Linked DNA regions of Homo sapiens. The protein of the gene in region 2 purifies or fractionates together with the protein of the main gene of each other region. This does not show direct contact. Each region holds a gene or a part of one and is shown on either strand. Other genes may lie near its edges.

The links. The genes of interacting proteins can lie anywhere in the genome.
Region 1: the proteins of KLHL20 (region 2) and RPRD1B purify together in Homo sapiens (affinity purification with mass spectrometry; 2 studies listed by BioGRID and IntAct, with this or other methods). This does not show direct contact.
Region 3: the proteins of KLHL20 (region 2) and POLDIP3 purify together in Homo sapiens (affinity purification with mass spectrometry; 3 studies listed by BioGRID and IntAct, with this or other methods). This does not show direct contact.

The regions. Positions count from the first base shown.
Region 1 is NC_000020.11:38,028,905-38,036,751, reverse strand, and holds the start of RPRD1B (regulation of nuclear pre-mRNA domain-containing protein 1B), read right to left. Parts: upstream 3,007-7,847; 5' UTR 2,805-3,006; coding exon 2,654-2,804; intron 2,647-2,653; exon of another isoform or gene 1,347-2,646; intron 1-1,346. UniProt on the Homo sapiens protein: Interacts with phosphorylated C-terminal heptapeptide repeat domain (CTD) of the largest RNA polymerase II subunit POLR2A, and participates in dephosphorylation of the CTD by RPAP2. Transcriptional regulator which enhances expression of CCND1.
Region 2 is NC_000001.11:173,710,113-173,717,991, forward strand, and holds the start of KLHL20 (kelch-like protein 20), read left to right. Parts: upstream 1-4,868; 5' UTR 4,869-4,966; exon of another isoform or gene 4,967-5,358; coding exon of another isoform or gene 5,359-5,542; intron 5,543-5,890; coding exon of another isoform or gene 5,891-5,931; coding exon 5,932-5,954; intron 5,955-7,879. UniProt on the Homo sapiens protein: Substrate-specific adapter of a BCR (BTB-CUL3-RBX1) E3 ubiquitin-protein ligase complex involved in interferon response and anterograde Golgi to endosome transport.
Region 3 is NC_000022.11:42,590,878-42,597,898, forward strand, and holds part of POLDIP3 (polymerase delta-interacting protein 3), read right to left. Parts: intron 5,489-7,021; coding exon 5,309-5,488; intron 4,738-5,308; coding exon 4,660-4,737; intron 1,208-4,659; coding exon 1,078-1,207; intron 1-1,077. UniProt on the Homo sapiens protein: Is involved in regulation of translation. Is preferentially associated with CBC-bound spliced mRNA-protein complexes during the pioneer round of mRNA translation. Contributes to enhanced translational efficiency of spliced over nonspliced mRNAs.

The sequences.
Region 1 (7,847 bases), on a different chromosome or scaffold from region 2:
ACAGATAGAAAACATTGCTATTATCACAGAAAATTGTATTAGATAGCGCTGTTTATATCCTTTATGCTGCTATCATAGAAAGTTGTATTGGATAGCGCTGTTTAGATCCTTTACTCAACCACGAAAATTCTATCAGAGACCATGATTTAATTCCTATTTTTAAACTATATAACAGGCACCACGCGATATCCTGTGGTGTTGCAAATAAACAAGAAGGTCTAGTTCCTCTCTCAAAACATAATCTAATGACAAAGATGTAACCAGTTCAAATGAACAGCTAGTAGGAACAAATTAAATGCTAAACTGGTATGATGGGGTGGGAGGCACTCATTAATTCTAATAAATGAAAGCACCACAGTTTGATTGCAGTCAGGTGACCACCTTCACTTATTAAATGCATTGAGGCACTGAGTACATGAAAAAGAACACATTTTGGCATCAGGCAGCCCTGGGCTCATGTCCTAGCTGTATGTCTGTGGACAAGGCACTTAATCCCTCTATACCTTTATCATCTCATCTATAAAATGAGGATAATAATGCTAGCCTACTTGCAACATAAGGCTTTACCACGTAAGATTAGGGATAACGGAGCTTCATACACAAATGTACTCTCTAATTTGCTTTTTTTCAGTAACTCAACTAGGGTGAGGCAAGGAATCAAGAAAGTGTCACAAAAGAAGTGACACTTGGCCAGGCGTGGTGGCTCACACCTGTAATACCAGCACTTTGGGAGGCCGAGGCGGGGGCATCACAAGGTCAGGAGATCAAGACCATCCTGGCTAACACAGTGAAACCCCATCTCTACTAAAAATACAAAAAATTAGCTGGGTGTGGTGGCGGGCCCCTGTAGTTCCAGCTACTCGGGAGGCTGAGGCAGGAGAATGGCATGAACCCGGGAGGTGGAGCTTGCAGTGAGCTGAGATCGCACCACTGCACTTCAGCCTGGGTGACAGAGCGAGACCCCCATCTCAAAAAAAAAAAAACAAAAAAAATGACACCTGAGATGGACTTTAACTGCCTCTTGAGGTCCCACCCAATAGAATTCTGTACAGTGGCAATTCACATTTCAGCACACTCTTCAAATAATTTCTGAATGGCACAGTGGGGTACATGAAGAAGGCCCCATAAACTCCAGGCTCTACCTCTTCCCGGAACTGCCCGAAGGGCTGAGGGGATCCCTATCTCAGTACAGTACGCGATATTTGGGGGCAGTCCCTGCTAAAGGGCTAGAACTGGGTCTCCTGAAAAAAATCATGAAGATTTTGGTGTTTGCCAGCCTGTTGTAGTCTGAGCCTGTTCAGTTCGAAAGCCTTGAAAATACCACTTAGCCACTTCAGTTTCCTCACCTGTAGAGCAGGACATCTGTGGTGTCCCCAACTCACAGATAGTATAGAACACTTGTAAAGCCACTTCGCTATAAAGGCCTACCACATATAGGGTGTCTGGAGCAGCTCTGAGCTTCATTTCTTCAGTCTTCCATTATGAAACTCATCCGGGAGTGTAGGTGTCCATCTTTCCCCACCAGACTGTAAGCAACTTGAAGGTAAAGACCATGCCTCACAGTGAGTAATCAAAAGTCTCATCTCACCATAATCTGCTGAATGCCTACACTGTGCCTCACCCCATGCTAAATGTTCATTTGGATTATCCCGTTTACTCCTCACCACGAGATGAGTCTCAGTTTTTCCTCTTCTGCAAAGTTCCTACTTCATAGGGCTCCGAGAATTTTTTTTAATGGCAATGTATGTAAAGATATCAGTACTGCACTTCGCATGTAATAAAGACATAGTAAATTTCAGTTATCCATTCTGTAGATAAGAAAATTAAGGCACAGACAGGTTAAGTTGCTGGGGTCAGTAAGGCGGCAAAGTCAGGCTTAAATTCTAGGCAGTTGGCAGAGGCAACATGCTGCAAGTGTCCAAGCCAGTGCCTGGCACATAACAGAATGAGTTCAATGAATTGTCTGTCAGAACCTGAGCAGGGCCTGAAATCAATGACAACTGCATGAGAGAGGAGAGGAGAGGAGAGGTAAGGTCTGGGTGGCCCCTTAACCTAAGATGGGAGAGACTACCTACTTCACAGGGCTGTTCTAAGGACTGAGTGCGAGGATACACACAAAGGTCTTAGTATAGTGACTGGTATGAAGTAAAGGCTTTGTAAGGGGTAGCTATCCTTGCCTCCCTCTTACAGATGAGAAAACGGAGACACAGGGAGATGAAGAAACTCTCCCAGTATTATTCAGCTGGCAAATAGCTGAGCCAGGACTCGATCTGCAGAGTCTGACTCCGGAGCCCACTGGCTTTTACTCCAAATACCCAGCACTGGGCCCGACATGCTAGGGCCAGTACGGCAGTGAATGCAGCCGAGATAATAACAGCCACAAATGTCAGGGGGAAACTGAAGGGAAAATGGCTTGATGAACTAGAAGTCTGGACACCTGAGTCCCAGTCCGTGGACCCTCAGGCAAGTACCTTAAACCTTCCCGGGCCTCAGTTTCCTTCTTCGAGAAATGGGGCTAACTTTGTCTCCCATCTCAGAAGCTCGATCAGGCCTGGAAAGCAAGGCTCAATGAAGAGGCTTAGAGGGGCCTAGGTTGTATGTGGGCGAGAGGACAATCCGGGGACCGTCCAGGGGGTGGGGATTTGGTGTTTACCTTTGCGGAGCTCGCGGTGCCACACGGAGACGATGGGTCCCGCGTGCTTGCGGTGGTGGATGAGCCAAAGGGACAGGGTCTGCACGCTCTGCTGAGAGTTGCTCAGCTCCGAGAGCTTCTTCTCCAGCGCCGACTCAGAGAAGGAGGACATGGTGGCGGCAGTGAGGCCCGGCAGGGAGCGGCCTGGGCCGCCCAGTGCGGCGGGAAGAGCGACGGCACGAGGCCGGGGCCTCACCTGACAGGCTGCGGGACTTTTTACCGACTGACAGACTGCCAGGGGTGCGAGAAGGGGGAGGGGATGGGTCTCCGCAGTAACAGCCGCCCGCGCCGCCGCCACAAGATGGCCACCCGACCTCTCACCCTGCCGCGAGAGCGAGGTCAAAGGGCAAGGGCCGGAGCAGAGGGGCACCGAGAGGCGTCGGAGCTCTAGAAAACCGTCCCTTTGGAGGCGGCGGCCGCTCTGAACCTCGCGCAGAGCACTTCGAAGGAGACAGAGCGAGGCAAGGAGAGTAGTTCCCCGGGCCCCCGGAAAGAGCTTTGACCGCTCGAGCCTGCACACCGGCGCAGTGGATCTCGCCGGAACCCTTTTTCCCGCTCCCTCGGAACCTTTCTGGCGCGATACGGCGCGCTACTTAGCGCGTCACTTCCGGCGAGGCAGAGGAGGCGGGAGAGTGAGAGAAAGGCTGGAAGACGAGGTAAGGGAAGAGTGGCGGGAACCAGAGGGAGCCCAGCAGCTGGGACCCTGTAGAGGGGTATCCTGAGGGGACATTGAGTCTGAGAGATCATGATCTGGATATGGGAGGGGGATTTCCTTTCTAATCTGGCGGGCCCCAGGCCGCATCTTTCCTCCATATGTGTTCGGCTCTCTGGCTGTCCCCCAAAACACTTAGTTTTGGTTCTTCCAAGCCACCCACGTGCCCTTTTCACGCCTCCACGCCCTGGCGCTCGTTCTCTGTCCGAAAGTGACATCCCCTTTCTCACCTGGTGAGCTCCTACTCAGCCCCCCGGAGCACCCTTTAATGTCCTGTTTTGACCTTTTAGTCTGTAACAGCGCCGTCATGAAACACACATTTGGGCTCTCGGCTCTTAAGTGGGTTCTCACTCAGGGTATTATTACGTGCTGCTTTTGCCGTCTGCGGGTCCAGTTGACTTTTTCGAACTTAAGTGAGGTGTTAACTTTAGGGAAAAGGTGGAGGGAACTAACTTAGCCTTCCCAATGTGTCTGTTGACCTCATGTTGAGACACACTATTTGAGGCCTGGCGCAACGTCTCTTGCTTGTAATCCCAACCCTTTGGGAGGCCGAGGCGAGAGGATAGCTTGAGGACTGGAGTTCAAGACCAGCCTGGGTAACAGCGAAAATTAGCCAGGCATGGTGACGCTCACCTGCAGTTCCAGCTACGCGAGAGGATACCTTGAGCCCAGGAGTTAGAGGTTACAGTGAGCTATGATCGTGCCACTGCACTCCAGCCTGGGCGATGGAGCGAGACTCTTCTCTGAAACAAAACAAAACACTATCTGAGACTCTAAACCTTGACCCTATTTTTTTTTTAAGTTTTAAATCCCAGGTATCAAAGCAGCAGAGAAATTTTGTTTTTCTTACTGCCACGGGGGTGATGGTAGGGAGTTAAGTTATAGACATAAGAGGGTTTTAAAATTTCCTGATCGTGGTATAACTTCCTAGTTGTGGGCAGACTCTAGTTTAGGAGACGTTCTTCTAGTTGATGCCTGCTTTTGCTCTTATTGCACTGTATTGCAGTTCTTTGCTTACATGCTTTTACCCTTCCTCCAGACTGGAATCATAATCATAGCTAACGCAGTGAGAGGTTACTATGTGCTAGACACAATTCCCACACAGTAACTCATTTAATCCTCACAACAAAGCTGTGAGGTATTATATTATCCCCCTTTGGACAGCGTAGGAAACAGGCTCAGAGAGGTTAAGTGACCTACCCAAGATCACATTACTAAGACTTGAGGGAAGGGGCTGCAACTTAGCCATCTTTTTGGCCCCAGTTCCTGATTTATCAAGTGAGTTAGTGTAAAAGAGGTGAGTAACCTAAAATCATACAGTGAGTATCTAGTCATAACTGAGGGCTTTTGTGTCGAAATCTAGATCATCTTTCCATATTAATAACACTGTCATATACTGAGCACTTTTATACCAAGTCACTGTCTATTAAGCACATTACATACTTTTTAAATTTAATTCTTACATCAGTCTTAGGAGTTGAAATTATTACAATCACTATTTGATAGACGAGAAAATGTAAAGCATGGTTAAGTACCCTATGTACTTGGACATAGTTAGGAAATAGCAGAGCCAGGAGTCAAATTAGGGTTATCTTATGTCTGATCCCAAATTCTTGCCTCCTGAACCAATAGTTTATTCATTCATTCGGAAAATAATTTTTCAGCACCTATGTCCAAAGCACTCTTCTAAGCTAACAGACAAAATCCACGTTCTCAGGAACTTACTTTCTACTGAGAAAGATAGAAAAACAAACATGCAAGTTTAGAATAAGTCAGAAAGTGGTAAGTAACTTCAATAAAAATCAAGGAGATAAGGAGGATAAGGAATGTATATGTGTAGGTGGGTAGTCTTTTACTTATGCTTCTCAGAGAAGGCCTCATTGATAAGATGTCATTTGAGAGACAAGCCATATGCCATTGTTCCAGGAAGAGGGAAAACCAAGTTTATACCATTGTTGGCATTTTGGAGCAACAGCAGAGAGGACAATAAAGCTGGAGTGATATGAACTAGAAGGGTGGCTGGAAATTAGTTCAGAAAAGTACGAAGGGACTGCATCACATGGTGACTTGTAGGCAATAGTATAGACTTTAGATGTTACTCTGAATGAAATGAAGTCCACTGGGCAGTTTTGCACAAAGAAGGAGCATTGTGGCTGTTAGGTAGAAAATAAGACAGTAAGAGTGCAAAGGTAGAAGCAGGAAGGACCAGTTTGGCAGCTGTTGTAGTAACCCAGGTGAAAGGATAACTCAAACCAGGGTGGTATCTGTGGAAGTGGTAAGAAAGGGACAGTTCTGGGGATATTTTAGAGGAAGAGGTAACAGGATCCGCTGATAGATTGGATATGGGGTGTGAAAGACATATGAGAGTTGAGATAGCTCCAAGGGTTTTGGCCTAAGCAACTATAAGAATAGCGCTTCCATTTACTGAATTACAGAAAAGAGTGGGTTTGGAGAGTAAGAGCAAGCATTTGTATTTGGACATGTCCATTTGGAAATGCCTATCTGAGTATAGATGTCTAAGGGGCAGTTGGGTTTATGGGTCTGGAATTCAAGGAAGAGCTATCTGGGTTAGAGATAAAAATGTGAGAGTCATAACGGAATAAGGTGTAAAAAGAGACTGAGTCCTAGGATTCTTCAACATATAGAGGTCTGAAAGGTGAGGATGATATGATTATGTGATTTTTCTTCTTAAGCTTGTTAATAGCTTGTTAGTATTAACAACTCTAATTGATTTTCAAATATTGAGCCAGTCTTGCATCTCTGAAATATACCCCACTTTATCATGGTGTGTGTGTGTGTGTGTGTGTGTGTGTGTGTGTTTTACATACTGCTGAATTTCCTAATATTTTCTTTAGGATTTTTGCATCTATACTCATGAGAGAAATTGGTCTATAGATTTTTTTAATTTTTGTATTGCCTTTGGTTTGGTATCAGGATAATACTGGCTTTATAAAATGGATTGGAAAGTGTTTCTTCTTTTTCTAGAAGAGTATGTGCAGAATTGGTGTTAATTCTTCATTAAATGTTTGGCGGAATTCTCCAATGAAACCATCTTGGTTTGGAGATTCCCTCCACTCCCTGCTTCCCTCCCTCCCTCCTTCCTCCTTCCTCCCTCCTCCCTCCCTCCCTTCCTTCCCTTCTTCCTTTTTTTTCTGGAGTTTTTAAGTGACAAATTCAGTTTATTTAAAAGTTATAAAGCTGTTAAAATAATCTCTTTCCTATTGTGGTTGTGTTTTTTGAGGAATTAACCACTTCATCAAAGTTGTCAAATTTATATGGGTAAAGCTATTTGTGGTATTCCCTGTCTTTGTTTTCTGTTGCTTATAACAGAATACCTGAAACTGGGTAATTTATAAAGAAAAAGGATGTATTTCTTACAGTTATGGAGGCTGAGAAATCCAAGGTCACAGGGCCACATCAGGTAAAAAACTTTCTTGCTGGTGGGGACTCTGCAGAGTCCCAAGGCAGTGCAGGATATCACAGGGCCAGGGGGCTGAGTGTGCTAGCTGAGGTCTGTTTTGCTCTTATAAAGCCACCAGTTCCCATGATAACCCATTAATCCATTTATGAGGGCTTATAAAGACTCCACTTCTCAATACATTGGGAATTAAATTTCAACATGAGTTTTGGAAGGGACGGATATTCAAACCATAGCATTCCCATATTACCCTTTGATGTCTGCAGGGTCTGTAGTACTGTCCCGTTTCATTACTGATATTGGAAATTTCCAGTATCAGTGTCTCGTCTCTTCTCTCTCCTCTCTCTCTCTCTCTCTCTCTTGCTCACTCACTCCCTTGTCAATCTTGCTAGAAGTTTGTCAATTTTATTGACCTTTTCAAAGAACCAGTTATTTATTTCATTGACTTTCTGTGTTTTCTGTTTTCAGTTTTGTCAGTTTCTGCTCCTTATTATTTCTTCTGCTTGCTTTATTTTGCTCTACTTTGTCTAGGTTCTTGTGGTAGGAGTTTACCTTTTTCGTTTGAGACTTTTCCCCTTTTCTAATATATGACTTAGTACTATTAATTTACATCTCAGCATGGCTATAGCTGTATCCACAGATTTTGGTGTGTCATATTTTCATTTTCATTCATTTCCCTATTTTTTTTCTAATTTCCCTTAAGGTTTCCTCTCTGTTCCGTGGATTATTTAGAAACATGTTGTTTAGTTTCCAAGTATTTGGAGATTTTCCTGTTATCTCTGTGTTAGTGATTTCAAGCTTGATTTCATTGTGGCTGGGGAATGTCACTCTGTATGATTTCAGTTCTTTTAAATTTGTTGAGGTTTGTTTTATGGCAGGATAATCATCTGTCTTATGTTCTATGAGCACTTGAAAAGAATGTGGGCTAGGCACTGTAGCTCATGCCTGTAATCTTAACACTTTGGGAGGTCAAGGCAGGAGGATCACTTGAGCCTAGGAGTTCAAGAACAGCCTGGGCAACATGG
Region 2 (7,879 bases):
CCAAGAGTTCAAGACCAGCCTGGGCTACATAGTGAGAACTCGTCTCTACAAAACAAACAAACAAACAAAATAGCTGGGCATTGTGGAACACTCCTGTGGTCCCAGCTACTGAAGAGGCTGAGGTTGTTACCGGTGGTGAATCCATATGGGTCTGCAGCAGCCTCAATTCTTGCCTCCTCAGAAGAAAGAATTTGACTGAGGGGCATGAAGCAGAAGAGATGGAGGCAAGTTTTAGAGCAGGAGTCAAAGGAAGGAAAGTACATGTGGAACAGGTCCAAGCAGGCAACTTGAAAACAAGTGTGAAGTTTGACCTTCTGACTTAGCATTTTATATGCTGGCATGCTTCTGGGGTCTTGCATCCCTTCTGCCCTGATTCTTCCCTTGGGGTGGGTTGTCCGCATGTGCAATGGCCTGCTAGTGCCTGGGAGGGGAGCATGCAGAGTGTGTTTACTGGAGTTGTACACATGCTCACTTGAGGCGTTCTTCCCATTCTGGTGGAATGCCCCTGGAAGGTCATATACCAGCTAAACTCTGCCATTTTGCCCTTTAATGCACATGCTGGAGCCCACTCACCCAATTCCTGAGATCTTATTGAGACGCTGCCACCAGTTTCAGGTGTTTTTATCTACTGGGAAACTGCCTTTCCCTGGTGCTGTTTGCAACCAATTATTATATTAGAGAGGCAGCGTGACAACTGCCTGACCATCACCCGATGGTCACCTGACATTCCTGGTGAGGTGCGGGAGAAGCCCTCTCCTGCCTTGCACATGCCTGGCTAGCCACCTACTGTAACAAGGGGAGAGGATCACTTGAGCCCAGGAAGCAGAGGCAACAGTGAGCTGTGATTGCACTACTGCACTCCAGCCTGGGTAACAGATTGAGACCCTACTTAAAAAGAAAAAAAAAGAAGAAGAATGAAAATTCCACAAACAATGGGCCCTGTGGGTCTCACCTACAACTAAACCTTAGGTCCAACCACTGTATTTTATACATTGGAAACAAGATATAATTTTTGATTGAAAAACTATAAGGTAAGCTCAGCAACCCCTGAAAAGAATTATTTGGCTGTTGTCACTACCTCATACCTGTGAACCCCGAAAATCTGAGACAGGTCTCAGTTAATTTAGAAAGTTTATTTTGCCAAGGTTGAGGATGCACCTGTGACACAGCCTCAGGAGATCCTGATGACATGTGCCCAAGGTGATCAGACCACAGTTTGGTTTTACACATTTTAGGGAGACATGAAACATCAATCAACATATGTAAGATGAACTTTGGTTCCGTTTGGAAAGGTGGGACAACTCAAAGCAGGGAGAAGGCTTCCAGGTCATAGGTAGATAAGAGACAAATTGTTGCATTCTTTTAAGTTTCTGTTAGTCTTTCCAAAGGAGGCAATCAGATATGCATTTATCTCAGTGAGCAGAGGGGTGACTTTGAATAGAATGGGAGGCAAGTTTGCCCTAAGCAGTTCCCAGCTTGACTTTTCCCTTTAGCTTAGTGATTTTGGGGGCCCAAGATATTTTCCTTTCACACACCCAATCTAAATAAAATCTATTTCATGTGTATTTTCCACTAGAAATTCAGGCTCCCGAAGGGCATAGTCTTACTCAGGTGGCAGAAAAACTGTAATTACTGCAAATGCCAGGTTTACCATAAACACATCTCTAAATGGAGTTCTCTAGGTCTTGACATAAATAAAAAGGGTTGATTCACACTGAACTTCTCCACTTCAAAAAGAAACAGAGTAGCAGAAGCACAAACCAGATTGCAGTGGGTTGGGGAGTGAATCACAGATATACAAAAATAGGAGGGACTGCTCTTATCCTGGACAGGAGTTTTAAAATCAGTCTTTGGTTAGCAGCATTTTTAGTAACATTTTTATACCATATAGTAACATTTTCATACCTATACTATGAATTATAAAAATAGTTTAATTCATATTACGGAAAAAATAGGAGTCACTTTGAAGGTATCTTTTACAATAAGCAATTCACAGAAGGGAAATCTGAATGCCACTTTCACATATGAAAAATGTTTGAACAGTAATGAGAGAAATAAACATTTAAACCACAGTGAATTACCATTTTATACCCAACCAATTGGCAAAAACAAATTTAAAGTTGGAAAACACCAACTGTGATGATAATATAGACCAACAAAAACCCTCAAACACTTGTAATGGAGAGACAACACAGCACTGTAGCTGAAAGCACAGACTCTAGAGCCATTGTGTATGGTTTCAAGTTATTGCTCTACTTCATAACTAGCTGTGTGACTTTGGGCAACTTACATAACATCTTGGTGCCATCTGTGAAACTGGAATGATGATAATAGATCCTACCTCGAGAGGACTAGTGTGAGTATTGATGAGTTACTATAACATGCTACATAAGTATTTGCTAGTATTATTATTACTGAAATAGAATAATGACTTTAGAGAGCAATTTGACTAGTGCTAATACAGTTGAAGCTGTGCATAGCATACAACCCAGCAATTTTGCTTCTGCGTGCACACCCCAAAGAAACACCTACAGGTGTACACAAGGAGGTATATGCAAGAATTTACATTGTAGCACTGTTTGTAATGGAGAAAACTGGAAATAGTCAAAATATCCATCTGCAGAAAAAAATGTTTTAAAAAATCTATGGTATATTCATATAATAGAATACTATAAAGCAGTGAAAATAAATAAATTAGTGCAGTAGTTCTCAAATTTTACCATGCACTATAATCACCTGGAGAACTTGTTAGAACACAGATTACTGGGGCCCACCTTCAGTTTTTGATTCAATAGGTCTGTAATGGGGCTCAAGGGTTAGCATTTTCCAAGTGATGTTGATGCTGCTGGTCCAGGACAACACTTTGAGAATCACTGAATTGGACCTTCATTGATCAACATGGACAAATCTTACAAACAGAATGTTGAGTGGAAAATGGAAGTTGCAAAAGAATACATATGCTTTGATACCATTTATGAAAAGTTTTAAAATATGGAAAAGAAATCATTTTACTGCATATGTATATATATCACATATACACATGCAGTAAAAATTTTCAATAAGATCACAAAGCTAGTCAGTTACAGGTCTAGGATTTGTACCTATGTGTATCCGTGAAATCGCCTTTGCAAACTGAAACCCCCTTTGCAAAAATTCTATCAGTGAGAAAATTATAGCAGTGGAGGAGATCTGATCTAGCCAAACCCCATCTTGCCTTTAGCTTTCAGTCTGTCCTTAATTATTCCTGGGCTTAAGCCAAGATAACTTTGGGAGACATTTAGTTTAATAGTTTAAATAATTACAGTCCTTCCCCAAAACTCAATTGCCTTTGTAAAGCTAATGAGAGACCACCAGACAACGGGGATAGATGAGCCTGAATTCTGTTAAGTGTAGACATAAGTGATTGCCAGCCATTATTCCAGAGGTCACAAGATATGCAACTTCCCCAATTACTCCTACAGATAACATCACTATTGTAGAATCTAGGATTGGCCTTTTTGGGTATATTTTTAAGTTTTTTGCATGTTTGACTACTGATGGCTCCACCTGGACCCACCAACTGTTCCTGTGGCTCCACCCAGAAACAACTCAGTAGGCAGGAGGACCATCTCCCATACCCCTATGACTGCACCAGTCAGCAGCAAGCACCCATTGCCTAGCCACCCCTACCCCTTTCCCCAGACTACCTTTGAAAAGAAACCTAGCCCCCAAATGCTCCAGGAGGCCGATTTGAGTAATAATATAACTGATTTGAGTAATAATAAAACTTCTTCCATTTTTCCACTCGATGTTGTGTAAAACTCTTTCTCCATTGCAATCCCTATACCTTGATAAATCATCTGTATCTGGGCAGCAGGCAAGAAGAATCCACTGGGCCACTATATCTGGATCTAAAGGCCATGTATTTTCCACTACAAGCTAATTAACAAGAGGTATCCTTTCCCCTCAGAAACAACTGGACACACCTGTGTAGATTCTACATAAAGAACAGCTAAAGAAAATCTGGTTAATACTTAGCCTAGTATACTTACCAGGAAATCAGCAACAGTCTTTCTCTGATATTCCTGAAATTGTAATCCCCACCTTACACTTGTATCACTTGTTTTCTAAATATTAATATACGGTAAAAATCAGGTGGCTGTGTGCTATGGGAAAATCTGGAGGAAAAGATAATTTTAAAAATATACTTTTTTGGCTCTGCTTGCTACTGAAAAAAAATTTTTTTAAGAAAATATACTCTTCCCTCCTTAACATTAAAGTGAATCCACAGAAGATGTGTTTGGTGAAGTGTCTGGTGGTGAATACTAAGTAGAAAGGGCAGACTAACACAGCCTTAGAGCCTGGATAAAATCCTGGTGTCCTGAAAGTTTGACCGTGGGAAATCTGGAGGATAAGGTCTATCTCTGGTCTGTCTATCTAACTTCTGCACCTTGCACATAGTAGAGGCCTGACAGATACATGCCAACCCATGTGTGCATGCAATAATTCAATCCACAATTAGGAACATTGTGCCAAAAGGAGACCCACCAACTAAAAAGAAATACAAATTCTTAGCTTTCTGTGACTACCCTTTACTGCCTTTGCTGGCGAAAACAAAGAAGAAAAGAGGAGGCTTCAGTATTCAAATACTGCCAGTTCCGCAGTGAATTCTAAAAATGGTTACTCTTGGGATACAAGGAACCCCCACGAGGATAAACAACCTCTGAGGTTACCTGAATGCCCCAGCAAAGGGCACGACTACTTCCGGAGCCGCACCGGAACCCCTTGGCGGATTATGTGGGTTCCTGCGGGAACGATTTAAGAATAGGACTACTTCCTGCTTCTGGATATGGGCCGGTGAAGGGAAAGGAAATAGCTCTACGAGCGGCATCCTGCCTGCGTTAGCGGCGGTGGAGGAGGAGGCAGAGAGGAGTGGAGGGCGGAGTAGACGGAGGAGGCTGCTGCAGAGAAGAAAGTGTCAGAGCCGGTAAGTGAGCCAGTCACCTTAGAGCAGGGGACAGCGGACAGCGCCCCAGGGCTCGCTTCGCAGATATGTGGTCCCAAGTTGCTGAGCTGCCCCATGGGGTCAGGTCGGTCGCCTGTCAGTCGGCGCCGAGAAGAGACTGTTGGGGCGCTGGGGCCGGGCCTCGCGGAGCGCCAGAGTGCGCTCTCGCTGGCTGACAGCCTATCTCGGGAGCCAGAGGAGGCCCCGGGCTTTGTCCTGCCTGGTGGTGCTGGGGTTTCGCATCCTGGACAGCTTCCCCAGACAGTGTTTGGAATTCAGGGAAGGAAGAAAGTACGTGCGCCCCCATTTAACCCTCGGGACCTGGCGAAATCCTGCTACGTGGGTAGTGAACATTGTATCGGGGACTGAAGGAAATGCTTGTAAAGAGTGTTAGTCTGGAGCCATACTTTCCCTGCCCTGTTCAAGCTCCCTGGACTGTCGGAAGCGGAGTTGTTTGTAAAGGCAAATGCAGACGCCTCCTCCTCCTGTCACTTCGGGACAAGTTAACAATCTTCAGATTCGTTATTAAAGCCTCGTGTACCCTATGTGATCTATCAGGTTAGTACTGCTGTGGGTATCTGGTGCTTGTTCTGTAAATATACTTGATGTCGAGATCACAGTTAAATATCTCCAAGCACTTTTTGAAGAGAAACAAGACTGACCTAACAGTCGGGACTATTTAGCATACTTTCCCTCACCTTTACTTTAATCGTTTTAGCATGCAGAGTAAGGATGGTAATCTTAAATGTACTAGATTAAGTTATTGTGCATCTGCAGAAGGCCTGTGGTATAATAGGATATGAAACTCTTGATAACTGACGAAATGAGTGAAATGATTATATAAAGATTGTTACTGTAAAGATCAGAAATAGCTTTTATTAAGTTCCTGCTTTTCTGTTGTCTTAGGTTCGGCTTTAGAGTGTGGTGAAGGGTACTTTTCATGGTGCATGGAAGGAAAGCCAATGCGCAGGTAGGCATTTAGGAAGAAAACCTTTGGTTTCACTGATTAAAATTCAGCATGTAATAATTTAAATTTTTAAAAAAGAGTTTCAATCTTACTAAATTCTGCTTGGAACTAATGAGTCTTGTTCTACAATAAATCAAAAGTAATATTAAGAATTAATAGCTTTTTAATAGAATAAAATACAGAAGTTGTTTCTGAAAAGTGCTGTGGATTGTATGTAGTGCTAAACACTTAAATTTTCCTTTTTTCATGTTTTTTACAGTAAATAATCATTAAGTTCATTATGATACTATATGGATTTATTATAATCTTCAGTTCCCTATAAAATGTAGAGGATTCTGTTCCCATGTAAGAATCATAATTATTTATAATATACTGTACTGCATGCCTAATTATGGTTTTGGTTATTTCCTTGATGTTCAATCATACATTTGTTCTGTTAATTAAAATAGCTGCATTGTAGGGAAGATTGTATAAGGACTAAAATAGGTATTAGACATAATAACTTAGTCCATAGAAAAATAGAACAATGTCTGGGAAAATATAGACAATAAATAGGCCCTCCCAACCCTAGAATTTAATAATGTTTTTTCTCATTTTGTTCTAACAAATGAGACTAGAATCTTTATGATACAAAATCATCCCAGTTCTATTTCTTTGGTTTTTACATTTGTTTTCTATTTATTGAACTCTATTTAATCATTTGTTATTTAACATCAAAGATAAACAACTTCTGCAGTTCTTTTAAGAGAAGAAACATTTTATAATGGGAATATGACTTATAACTCAGAACTTGGAGCAAGAACCAGAATGTATATCTTTATCCAAATCTGTTATTGGTTTATCAATTGACCTTGAGCTGTTCACCTTCTCTGTACCCCAGTTTACTTCTTTAGTGTATCTGATCAGGATATTGGGGATTAATGAACATTTGCAAATGCTTTAAGATCTCCAGATGAAAAGATGTTATCAAGATGAAAAATACCATTATCTTATTTATATTTTACTCTGTAGTAGGAATAATATTTTACCACAATGTACATGAAAAAATTAACAACATAATATTAAATACTTCATCCCTTTACTTCTAACATTATTGCAAAACCCACTGATTGTGTCTCATCTCCAGCTACCATAAAATGTCATATCTTATATAATTGCTAAAATAAGAGCTTATTATTTTTTAAAAGAATAGCAGAGTGTGGGAATGTTTTTGGTTTATCAGTAGTCTATATAAAATATTTGCTTAATCACTCATACCTGCTCCTTTTTTCTTGCTTTATTACATAATACTGTCAGCTATTCAGAATCATGCTGGATAATTCTAGTGCTGTTAATCGTTAAGCTACGGCTCTTTCTTCATCACTGTCACTTGGCCAGAGCCTAGCCTACTCACATTGGTCTCTGGTCTTACTTTCACCTGCTTCCTACATTCAATCATGGTCACACTTCCCTATCCTTTTCTTATTGGGCTGTCATTTTTGCTGATTTAACCCAGAAGGCAGTCTCTGTAATGCTGGGTTTATACTCAGTTGCTATTAAAGAAGCTTTGAGAAGTAACTTTTTATATTGAGACTATTTGAATACATGTTCATTCTGTCTACTAGATTGTGAGCTCTTTTAGTCTCATGTCTTCCTATATTTGCATCACTAGCACCTAACGATTACTGAATAATTGTTTGAATAGGACTGAACAGTTTCTGCAGACTTTCCCCCTCCAAAAAACAAAAAAAATCTATGAACAAGACTGAAAATTATTGTTAAAGGTATTCTAATTTTTGATTATAAAGTTTTATGAAATCAATTGGCATTTTATTAGTAAAGTTTCATTACCTCATTTATTTATGTACTATCATTTGCATAGCACAATGCAAAATTTAAAAGATACAATAGGATATTCAGTGAAAAGTTAACTCTCCCATTGCTGACCC
Region 3 (7,021 bases), on a different chromosome or scaffold from region 2:
CCCGGCCAACATGGTGAAACCCTATCTCTACTAAAAATACAAAAAAATTAGCTGGGCTTGGTGGCGTGCACCTGTAGTCCCAGCTACTTGGGAGGCTGAGGCAGGAAAGCCGCTTGAACCGGGGAGGCGGAGGTTGCAGTGAGCTGAGATCACGCCACTGCACCCCAGCCTGGGCAACAGAGAGAAACTCAAAAAAAATAAAAAAATAAAAAAATAATAAAAAATAAAAATAAAAAAAAGAAAGAAAAAGGAAAATAAGTATCTTTCCACATCCAAACATATGACAAAAAATAAGAAAAAACAAAAAAAGAACAGAAATTCAAAACAAAATTAATTTCTTTAATGACATACAAATGGCCAATAAGCACATGAAAAGGTGCTCAACATCATTAGCCATGGGGAAATGCAAATCAGAACTCCACTGACTCACCCAGGGGAGTTCACCCAGGTGCCAAGATTTAGCCAAGGCTCCAGGTCTTTTATTTGTAATTTTTTTTATTGTTGTATTGTTTTATTAGTCTCTGCTTCTCCACTTCTAGCACAGGGCCTTGGTCCACAGTAGGCACTCAATACATACTGAAAGAACAAATGAGTGGAAAAGGAGCATGGCAGACAGAATTCTTCTCTACAGGCTGTCTGGAGATGAAAAATATGAACCTCAAGTCAATAAAGTCTGTTGTTTACCCACCAGGAGCAGCTCTCACCCAGGTGTCAACATTCAGACAAAACTCCAGGGCTGGGAGGAACTTCTGCCCTAGCACTAAACAGATCAACATCTGGGAGGCAACAGCTGTGCCTCTTGGCTCCCCTGGCAAGACCCCTTAAGAGAACCATCCATGGAGAAATGCTGTTTTCCTTTTTGCTGGGCTCAAAAGCTTAAGGGCTGGGTGAAAATCCAGGGCCCTGTGTAACCCACAGCTCAGGACTACTCAGAGACTGCACGGCAGTTCCTGGTGCAGACGAGGCCCCAGAGATGGGTTCCACCCATCTCACAGAGACTTCCCCTGGAAGGCCTGCTACCTGACAGCAAGTAGAGATGAGTGGGAGGGTCAGGGGACTGCTTTCTCCCTAACTTACCGTCCAGACACCGGTTGTTGTACTTCTTATATGCGGTGATGGCATCGTCCTTTTTCACAAACACCACCTCCGCTACCCCAGGATGGACCAGTCGAGCTCGCTTGAGGGCCCCACACACACAGAAAAGCTCCTGCACACAACAAGAGGGGTTGGGATTGGGGAAGGATTTCTCAGCACCTGCCGCTCACACACTCTGAAGGCCCTGGGGTGTGGTGGTTCCGCTGCAGCTAAATGCGCCCTGCGCCTGAGACTGCGGGGAGGCTCCACGCGAGGTGGTGCTCTGGAGACATCCACAGGCTTCAACACAGCACCAGATGAGGTCAGCAGTGGGAAAGGGGCTGGGTTTACAAGCCTTGGATCACCTGGGATCTCCCAGCAAGCCACCACCAAAGTCTTCAGTGCCCACCTCAACAGGGATAAAACAGTTATGAAAATTTTCGCAAAGAGCCCTGTCATTAGAATACATGTATACAAAGAAAGACAGCTGCTAATATGTCACCTGAGAATCTGTTACAAATACAAATTCTGGAGTTCTACCCAGAGTCCTGGTTTGGCTGGACTGAAGGGTTTCCCTGGACATGAGACTTTGAGTGATGAAACCAGGAGAGTCCCCAGCAAAACAGGGACAGTTGGTCACTCTAAGTCAGACCTGAGTTTGATCCCCCAGGCTCTGCTTTCTATCTGCTATGAGACGTCTAGCAAATTACTTAACTTCTCTGAGCCTGTTTCCTCCTCTGAAAATAAAAAGGACTAGCTTACTTCCCAGCTTTACTGGAAAGCTCAACTGAGATAATTTTTAAGGCAGTGCTTTGCACACATCATTGAGTCCGATCTCCACCTCATTTTACAGACAAGACGACTAAGGCCAGAGAGGGAGCAAAATGTGAAGATGGACAGAGGCTGACTAGCACTCACGCCATTTCTTCACCTGCAACTGCCTTCACAAGGTTGCTGTGAGGGCCAAAAGAAGGTTTATGAAAAGGTCCTTGACATGGTTTGTTTTTAATGGTAAATATCAAAACAAGATGCCCCTCTGCACCTGCAGGAGACTGGTTCCAGAACCGCTCGCAGATACTAAAATCTGTAGATGCTCAAGTCCCTGCTATAAAATGCTGTAGTATTTACACATAACCTATGCACATCATCCACTATACTTTAAATCATCTCTAGATTACTTATAATACCAAATACAATGTAAATGCTATATAAATAGTTATACTGTATTTCTAAAATTTGTATTATTTCTCATCATACTGTTATTTTTAAAAATTTGAGTATTTTCATTCAGTGGTTGGCTAAATCCACAGATGCAGAACCGACAGATATGGAGGGCCAACTATAAATAGTAGGTGTAATTCCAATTTTATTACCATTGTCCTTTTAACATTGCCTATTTGGGTAGAAGAGAAGCGAGGGTGATTATTACTAGCAATTTCCCCTGAGCACTGATCATGACTGGTGTTTAGTTTTCCACCATTATGTATCTTCCAAGAGTCTGCCTAAAGTGACTGGCACATAGCAAGTACTCAGTAAATGGCAGTTGTTATTACGCTCCTTAACAGCTTTAATTCTTTTCTTTTTTTGAGAGAGTCTCACTCTGTCACCCAGGCTGGAGTGCAATGGCGTGACCTCGGCTCACTGCAACTTTCACCTCCCAGGTTCTAAGTGATTCTCCTGCCTTAGCCTCCTGAGTAGCTGGGACTACAGGCACGTGCCACCACGCCTGGCGAATTTTTCTGTTTTTAGTAGAGACAGGGTTTTGCCATGTTGGCCAGGCTGGTCTCGAACTCCTGACCTCAGGTGATCCACCAACCTTGGCCTCCCAAAGTGCTGGGATTACAGGCGTGAGCCACTGCACCCGGCAATCAGCTTTAATTCTTAATGACTTGTCAAGTATTACACAAAATAGGCTACAATTTCCATCCTCACGTGCACCATTCACAGTACTGTCCCTGCTAAAGGAGAAGGAGATACGAGTGACCCATCTCACGGCATGCGTGTGTTTCACAATTAAGATTTAACCTCAGCTGGGCACAGTGGCTCACACCTGTAATACCAGCACTTTGGGAGGCCAAGACAGGCAGATCATGAGGTCAGGAGTTCAAGACCAACACGGCCAACATGGTGAAACCTCGTCTCTACTGAAAAATACAAAAATTAGCCGGGTGTGGTGGCACACGCCTATAATCCCAGCTACCAGGGAGGCTGAGGCATAAGAATCACTTGAACCCAGGAGGCGGAAGTTGCAGTGAGCCAAGATCGCACTACTGGCACTCCAGCCTGGGCGACAGAGCAAGACTCCATCTTTAAAAAAAACAAATCGAGGTGGGTGGATCATTTGAGGTCACGAGTTCGAGACCAGCCTGGCCAACATGGTGAAACCCTGCCTCTACTGAAAATACAAAAATTAGCCAGGCGTAGTGGCAGGCGCCTCTAATCCCAGCTACTCGGGAGGCTGAGGCAGGAGAATTGCTAGAGCCTGGGAGGCAGAGGTTGCAGTGAACCGAGATCACACCATTACACTCTAGCTTGGGTGACAGAGTGAGACTCCATCTCAAAAACAAAACAAAACAAAACAAAAAGATTTAACAAATGTAGTGACCAGTGCAGTCTGTTAGTCTGGGACTTAACTGCAGGGAGAGGCTGGATTCTCCAAACGTATTCATTTTGTGATCTGACAGTTCAAAGGATGCCTGGATTTCTAAACTAATGGCTCTTTTGGGTGCCTGAATGAAAATGATGTTGAAAAGAAGTCCTAGCTGCATCCAGAACCCCGCTCACAGACATTTGACAGGTTTTGCCCATGACTGCCATGGGTGGGACGGGATGGACCAGGAAGGTGGATACCACCAATCCATCTCACTTCTTTCACTTTGGAATCATCTTGTAATACCTCCAAAGGACACAGGAAAACACAACTATTGGATACTGCCCAGTGGGACTAAAGGATCCCATTTAGGACCCATTATAGCATAGATATCCCCTGACTCTGAGATTCAGGCCAGGCACCTGGCCTTGGCTAGAAGCTGTGCAGAAGAGTGAAGCAGCTGGGCTGACTGCTATTGTTTGAAAGGTCCGATTCCAGGGGTGGCCCTTGGCTGGCATCTGAGAACTCGGATCTCAGGAGGGCTCCTGCCACCCCACAGTTCACTGTGCCTGGACTGTGCAAACAACATGGTTTCTGCTCAACAGCTGCTTTCCCTCTGGGAGTCTGGAATTTTAGTACATGCTACACAGAGAATGCCGAAGTGACCAGCCCCCAGTAAAACCTTTGGGTACTGAGTCTTTAATGAGCTTCCCTGGTGTCACATGTATTGTCACAACTTGCTGCGAGTTGCACCCAGCATCCTGTGCGACTCTGCTGGGAGGGGCCTCTGGAGGCTTGTGCCTCGTTTCCCCCCGACTTCACCCCATGAGCCATTTGCTCTGCATCCTTTTGCTGTCATTAGTCTCAGCCCTGAGCGTGACTATATGCTGAGTCTGGTGAGTCCTAGCAGTCATCAAACCTGAGGGTGGGTCTTAAGAGACCTTTGCCACAGAGGCAGTTTGAGATTTAAATGTTTGGTAGGTCACAGTACTTACAACAATGTCCTCCTCAGTGACTCGAGGGTGCAGATTATTCACAGTCATCTTGGTGCCTTCCAATGGGCTGAGAACAGGCTGCCACACAGACAAGAGCATTACCAGAAGCCAGATGGCTGATAAGCATTCCCACAACAGAAATTCCTCCAGGCACGTGACTAGGAAGGCCCAGAGGAAAGCTCCATGGAGAGTTACCACAAATGGGCCCCCTGAACTTCAGTGTCCACTACACCCCCCATCACTCTATGCTAAAAGCATGGACCCTCTCCCATCTCCCAAATACGCAAGCCTCTCAGGCCCTGAGCCTCTACCTGGAAGGCTACTCATGCTTCCAGACCCACTCAGCTAAAAGAGCCCTTTTTCCCAGACTTCCCAACTGGAATGAGATAATCTGTCCTCAGCCCTCCTAATAGCTTTCTTCTGAGAGAGTCTAACATATCACCAGATACCGCAATCTCTCAGCAGGTCTGCCGTCCCCACTAGCCTGCAAGGTCTTTGAGGGTAAGAGTCCCTAGGTCTTGGTTTGCTCATCTGTAGAATGGGGGTGGCAATGCCCACCTCACAAAGGCGTTGTGGGGAACACAATGAGGTACATATAAGCATACAGCCCTCCTGACCCCAACTGCTGCAGTCACCACCATCACCTCACCTCAGCAGCTGGCAGCTCTTTGGGGGGTTCTTCCTTGTTCACCAGTGTCCGGGACATGTTGGTCAAGGCTTTTGTTCGAATAGAGGAAGGGAGAGCAGGAGCTGTGTATGCATCATTCTGAACCACTTTGGTGAGAGGGAGGGCCTTGGACATGGAAAGCTTGGAACTGCTTAGCCCAGCCTAAACGAAGAGACAGAAAAGAATCTGAGAAGCCAGACCTGCAATGTTCTGAAGAAGCCCCAAGAGGTTGACAACTTGCTGAGAGCATGAACCCTCGATGCCTCCCAGCTCTCTAATTCTATTAGAGGTCTGGAGCCAAAAAGGCTGCCGGCTGCCAGTGACATCCCATAGGGAAGGGGCAGGGGGAGAGAAAAACACACAGCCTGAACGCGCACTCACAGAAGCCACTCCCCACAGTGCTAGAAGCTCTTGGCAGGAAGCTTCCATACAGCCCTGACCTGGAAAATTACCCAGGAGCCACAGGCTCACCCACACCACTTAGACTTTCTAAAAATTCTACAATATGAGGCTGGTCAGAAGGCCAAAAGCTTGGCCAGGCATAGTGGATCACATCTGCCATCCCAGCACTTTGGGAGGCTGAGGTGAGAGGACTGCTTGAGGCCAGGAGTTCAAGACCAACCTGGGCAACACAGTGAGACCTCATCTCTATAAAAAATGTAAAAGAGCTGCTCTGCCTGTGGAGTAGCCATTCTTTTATTCCTTTGTTTTCTTAATAAAGCTGCTTTTGCTTACAAAAAAAAAAATTAAAAGGCCAAAAGCTTGAGGCCAAGTTCATTCCCAGATATGCTTCTATCACAATGTGCTGATCACCACTCTTAAGAAGGCCCAGAATTCAGTGTTTTGGTTCCTCTTCTGGCCATCCAGAGGAACCACACACAGCCTTGGCCTCATCAGCTCCGACTGTCAGGGACACTCGGGCATTTGGCAGTGCAGATCACCAAAAACAGCCCCTCCATCTGGATGTGGTCCCTTGGAAACAAAACTCCCCTGTATTAATGTGTCTGAGGAAAAAGGTGCATAAAGCAGAAGTGACGGGGGCCCTGCTGATTTAGGGCAGTGTTTACAGGCACTGACCCAGGGCAGGGAGAAAGGAGGAACGCAGCGGCCAGAGAGGCACATCAGAGCATGGGCACGGGCAATTCACCACGCTCCTCCAAGTCTGGGTGAAGCAGCGTCATCCCCATGCTGAATTCCACATTCCTCATGTGGAATTCTGCGTCTCCAGAGCTGGGACAGCACAGTGACTCCACACAGGGCCCTGAGAGCGAGACTGCTCGGGCTCCATTCCTAGATCCACTGCTTCTCATCAGCTGGGTGATGTTGAACAGGCTTATTTCACCTCTCCATGCCTGTCCCTCATCCATCAACGAGGGTAATCAACAGTACCCATCTCACAGGGTACAAGACGCATGAGTATAAATATGGCATTTATTCAATTAGGGTATCAAATAGGGATAGAGACTCACTGAGCAAGCTGATAGTTCCCTTGATAGCAGACTTGAGCAGTCTAATTACTGGAAAGGCCTGGTCCCTTTGTAAAGAAACAAACTGGCATCATTCAGCTTCACGACCTCTTTTTTTTTTTTTTTTTTGAGACGGAGTCTCGCCCTGTCACCCAGGCTGGAGTGCAGTGGCGCAATCTTGGCTCACTGCAACCTCCACCTCGGGGTTCAAACAATTCTCCTGCCTCAG